Regions from separate parts of the Homo sapiens genome. Here region 1 is linked to region 2. The links come from fine-mapping of genetic effects on gene expression. Tissue or cell type: sun-exposed skin. Region 2 holds a variant in brackets; the other region holds the start of a gene. All regions are shown on one strand. Distances are between the middles of the regions.

Region 1 (2,759 bases), 21 kb after region 2:
GTGGCTCTAGAAAGGGCCATAAAACAAAAATCATTTTTATCGTTTCAATCTGCAAGAAAGCTCACCCCCCACCCACACCCCACAAGCTCAGAGCCCCCAGAGTATAGGATCCGAGGCAGCAAGTGTGAGCGAGGCCCGTCCTGGGGGAGGTGGCCTCTGGCCGCGGGGCCAGGTTGCCCTCAGAGGCGCAGGCGGCCAAGAGAGTTCCCAGCCGCCGCCGCCCCCCTCCTTCCCCTTGGGCCCGTCCAGCAAATTTCCTCCCTCGTTTCTGTTCGTGCCTTCCCTCCCTCCTCCTCCCCCCGATATTTTCGCTTTCTAAAACCATAAAAAAGAGATCAACTTCCCAAACTTCACAGGGCCCTTTTCAGTGACAAATATTGATGCCCAAAGTGTCTGCGCTCTCCCGCCCCCAAACGTTAAGAAAAGACGCCAGCGAAAGGGAGACATAAAAAGTTAACAATGCTGTGAAAATATGTTTGCAGAAAATAGACAATCGTTGGATTAAACGTATTCAAGTATGAAATAATGCCTTTTTGTGTCAAAACTTGGGCGATGGGCGGGTACAAAAGTTCCCTGTGGCAGCTACTTGCTCCCTTTGTGAGCCGTGCGCTTTGGCGTCTCCACTTGGGCGCATTACTCAGAGCCCTCTAAGCGCGATTGTTTCTCCCTTTCTAATGACATTTACCGGATCAAAACATGCTGTTAATTCGATCAGAAGGCTTCACCCTCCCTGACAAAGCCACAATAATTTCTCCTGAAGTTTGTTAAATTGACCAAAATTAGGCAAATGAATAGGGGTCTGTAGGCGCCCCCTCTCGCAGGTGACGTTGCATAATGCTTGCCTGGGCCAGCTGCATTCCCCCTTTTCTTCTCGGCCCACTCTTCTCCGTGTTGCCCCCCAATCCTCCCACCCGCCCCTTCACACACAAACACACACACACGCCCGCCAGTCTCTCCTCCCCCACCCTCTGGCATTATTAAAATTTAGCCCAATGAAACTATTCATACTTTTCAATGGACATTTTCGTATAGGATAATAGGCTACAAATTGAGCCTCTTCCCCCCGCGAAGAGGGAGCAGGAGGGGTGGGGAGAAAAGAAAGCCAGCGACGTGGTCAGGGAGTAGGGGGGAGCGTCGCGTGCCAAACAGCGGCGGGAGGGGCGAGGCGAGGCGAGGCGGGAGCCTCGTGTGCCAGCCGCAGCCCCACACCTGCCGGGATGTCCGGACAAATAAAGCGGTGTAAACAAAAAGGGGGGAGAAGGACGTGTCACCAAGTCGTGTGAGAAAAGCCTGGGAACAAACGGGGCGCCTCCGTCTCCAAGAGCTCTCCCTTGAACCCGGCGGAACAGCCTATTAAAGGCTTACTTAATTACTTTAATGACTCTGGACAGGCTTTAAAACGCACTCGGCGCTGGGACGGCGGGCTTGCTGGGATTTGTAAACAGGCGATCATGTGAGACTCAGCGGTGGGACTAAAAGAGGCGACACTGTTTTGTGAGGGTCCTCGCCCCCCGGTGCCCGCGGCCGCTGCGCCCCTGCGCTCCGCGCCCGCGACTGCTGCAGGCGCTTGCTCGCCCGCCGGCCCCAGTTTACCGCCTCCTTTTCCCGCCCGAGCTGTTGCCATGCAAATGTTATTCCTGGGCCGATCACGTGTCCTTTGAAGGGCCACGTGGATTAACAAAGCTGATCTGCCCCCAGCTCGCCCCCCTCGGCTGCTAATTTTTTTTTTTTCTTAACTTCTTTAAAACTGATCTTGAATGCATACATCCTCCAAACGCAGCTCCCCTAATCCTATGGAATAATTCAACTCGTGAATGCATCTGGAGCCCTAGATGACCGCTTTATAAGGCAGCCCTCGGAGTTGGGAGGCTGCAGTCTACCTGGGACACTCGAGGAGGCACACGAGGCGGAAAAGTGGACGGGTGCCCCGCGCCACCGCCTCTCCCGAGGGCGCGTACTGACCAGGATGTCAGACAAGCTCAAGGAACGCAAAGTGAGTCGGCTGAGCCCAAATGGCACTTGCGCCCTGGTGGTGGAGGCATCTGACTCACCGACCCGCCACTTGGGTGGACCGATGGCAGGGAAGTGCCCGCACGGGACTTTGAGTGTGGAGGAATCTCGAGTGGTTTGGGAAGGGGGTGGGGTAGAGAGAGGAGGGTGCTCAACCAGGTAGAAGTCCTGCCTGGAGGCTGGCGGCCACCTCCCCAAAGGCCTGGGTAGGGTGGCTGGAAGGGGAGCGCGCCAGCGCGGGCGTCAGAAGGCAGAGCTCACCTGGCCCGAGCGTGGCGGGCCAGGAGTCCCTTCCTAGAGCGAATCTGAGCAGTGTGCGCGGCTGGAGAGGCGGCTTGCACCCAGCTGCTAGAGCCGCGCCTTTGACGACTTCCCGGGCAAAGCCATCCTAAACATACAACCCTCTCTTCGCAGAGAACCCCCGTTTCTCATAAAGTGATAGAAAAGCGGAGGAGGGACAGGATCAACCGCTGCTTGAACGAGCTGGGCAAGACAGTGCCCATGGCCTTGGCGAAGCAGGTAACGTTGGCGACCCGGAGCCGGGTGCCAGGCGTTGGGAGGCCTCTGCGGCCACTCTGCGGAGACGCCCGAGCCCGCGGACACAGAGGACCTCACTTGCGGGCCCCTCCCAGGCGGGGGGCCTGAGCGCAGGGCGAACCTCAGGAGGCTCTGGCGCAGATCCGCAGCCGCGTCCGCTCGCTGGTCCTCTCCAGCGCCACAGTGCCCGACCAGCAGGCGCTGGGCCGCTG
Region 2 (2,759 bases):
AGAGGTTGTAGCAGGAGAATTGCTTGAACCTGAGAGGCAGAGGCTGCAGTGAGTGGAGATCACACCACAGCACTCTAGCCTGGGCAACAGAGTGAGACTCTGTCTCAAAAAAAAAAAAAAAAAAAAAAGGAGTGGGCAGTGCAGTTGGAGTCAAAGCACTGGGGCTCCCATTCACGCTGAAGTATGGTTCATCAGCATCATTCAGGTTCCTGGTATAAAGAAGGAAGATGTAAATCTGAATTTACTCCATGTTGCTGAGTAAGGTGGCTCACACCTGCAGTCCCAGCTACTTAGGAGGCCAAGGCAGGAGGACTGCTTGAACCCAGGAGTTCAAATCCAGCCTGGGCAACATAGTGAGATCCTATCTCAAAATACATAATAATAAATTAATTTACTCCATGCTTGGTGGTTTGCCAAAGAACAGAGGGCAATGGAGTGGAGGGAGCTGGTAAGAGAGTGTTGGAATTGCTGTTCTGTGGGGTCTGGGCTAGAAAGGACAAAAGTGAACATAGGAAGTGGTTCATCAGACTTGGAGGATGTGGGGGAGATGGGATGTGAAGTGGTGCTTTCTTCACAGCATTTGCCTTGGTTGTAACTAAGCCTTTAGTTAAGTCATCATTGGATCACTGTGCTCTGCCCCAGGTGCAGGTCTTTGTGAGAAGGGACCATGCCTGTGTGGTTCATCGCTGTATCGCAGTCCCTTGCACAGTCCCTCCTACACACCGGGTGCTCATTAATTTTTTGTTGAATATTTAATGAGAGAGCTGGAAGGTCTGGGAGAGACTGGATTATGGCAGAGAGGCATATGGACTCCCACAGGTGGAGTACTTCCAAGGGATGATAGATCCAAGCCATGGAGGGAAAGAGGCGAGATGCAGCAAGGTGACCTCAACAGAGCCATGTCGAGCTGGGGAGAGGAAGCACAGGCAGAAAGGAGAGAGGGAACAGCAGTCAAGGGGCTGGAGACCGTGGGGATGAGAGGCCAAAATTAACTGGCCTCAGGTTGCTAGCTAGAAATTTATCAAAAAAAGTATTAGTTTGGTGCAAAAGCAATTGTGTTTTTTTACATTATTATTATACTTTAAGTTCTAGGATACATATGCAGAAGGTGCAGGTTTGTTACATAGGTACACACGTGCCATGGTGGTTTGCTGCACCCATCAACCAGTCATCTACATTTGGTATTTATCCTAATGCTCTCCCTCCCCCAGCCTCCCACCTCTTGACAGGCCCCAGTGTGTGATGTTCCCCTCCCTGAGTCCATGTGTTCTCATTGTTCAACTCCCACTTATGAGTGAGAACATGCAGTGTTTGGTTTTCTCTTCCTGTGTTAGTTTGCTGAGAATGATGGTTTCTAGCTTCATCCATGTCCCTGCAAAGGACATGAACTCATCCTTTTTTATGGCTGCATAGTATTCCATGGTGTATATGTGCCACATTTTCTTTATCCAGTCT[C/T]TCATTGATGGGCATTTGGGTTGGTTCCAAGTTTTTGCTATTGTGAACAGTGCTGCAATAAACATATGTATGCATGTGTCTTTATAGTAGAATGATTTATAATCCCCAATGGCAAAAACCACAATTACTTTTGTACCAACCTAATACTTTAGTGCTGAAATTGAGGTACGCCATGGCTTGCAGGAGGCTGTACTTGCTACTTATATCTGGTTCTGGTAAGTAGAAGCAAGAACTAAGAGAGGTCATCCAGGCCAAAATAATAAGCAGAAAGAAAAATATTCTGCCCGTGGACACATCTCAATGTTAGGCAGAAATTAACTGAAAATCAGTTATGGTGCAACTGCTTCATTTTATCTTTTCAGAATTCCTTTTTCAAAATACTTTCCCTCCTGCATGAGTATTCTGAGTTGGGTCTGCCTTTGCTATTAACATCTGTATAATCAAGTTTATGGTCTAATTGGGCAATCACTGCAAACATTTCTGGGTAAAAAGCCATGCATTCTAGCATTATTTTAATAAGCCTCTGATCCAGTTAGTTCTAGTCATCCAGTGGTTTATTTTGTACTAAAGAACCAGCTTTTAGATTTGGCACTACCTTTTTCCATTTTCTAATTCAGTATTATCTGCTTTTATCTGTGTTTAATGTGTCCCCTCTTTTCTTGGTGTATTTTGTTGCACTCTTTTCTTTTCTTAATTTTTTGAGTTGGATACTAATTCACCTTTTTTCCATTATTCCTTTTTGGACTGATTTAAATACTTAAGACTAAAATCTCCCATGAGCTCTGCCTTATTTTTTACAGGTTTCATAATTGCTGTTTTCTAGAAATTTTACAATTTTTGATATCTATATCTTCTTTATATCAAGAGTATTTGGGCTGGGTGTGGTGGCTCACGCCTGTAATCCCAGCACTTTGGGAGGCCGAGGTGGGTGGATCACTGGAGGTCAGGAGTTCAAGACCAGCCTGGCCAACATGGCAAAACCCCCTCTCTACTAAAACCACAAAAATTAGCCGGGCGTGATGGCACGCCTGTAGTCCCAGCTACTTGGGAGGCTGAGACAGGAGAATCGCTTGAACCTGGGAGGTGGAGGTTGCAGTGAGCCAAGATCCCACCACTTCACTCCAGCCCCAGCATGGGTAACAGAGTGAGACTCCATCTAAAAAAAGAGAGTATTTGATAAAAATGGTTTTAAATTTTTTTAAATTGAAAATTCCAAACATAAACAAAAGTAGAGAAATAGGATATAGGATTTCCATATACCCATTACACAGCTCAATGATTATCAATATATGACAAATTTTGGT

What was found. PIP is the estimated chance that this variant, and not a neighbour inherited with it, causes the effect.
Region 1: HELT starts here. The variant in region 2 is fine-mapped to the expression of HELT in sun-exposed skin (GTEx, PIP 0.96).

What each region holds. Positions count from the first base shown.
Region 1 is chr4:185,016,963-185,019,721 of GRCh38, forward strand. HELT (helt bHLH transcription factor) reads left to right here and starts at 1,528. Exons shown (of 4, transcript NM_001300781.2): 1 at 1,528-1,993; 2 at 2,425-2,529. The coding sequence starts at 1,967. RefSeq lists enhancers at 778-1,358, 1,359-1,937, 1,938-2,517.
Region 2 is chr4:184,996,449-184,999,207 of GRCh38, forward strand. All of the region lies in intron 1 of LINC02437 (long intergenic non-protein coding RNA 2437), which reads left to right. Among named protein-coding and RNA genes, the nearest start is that of LINC02437, 8.5 kb to the left of the region's middle. The variant C/T (reference allele first, on the strand shown) is at 1,456.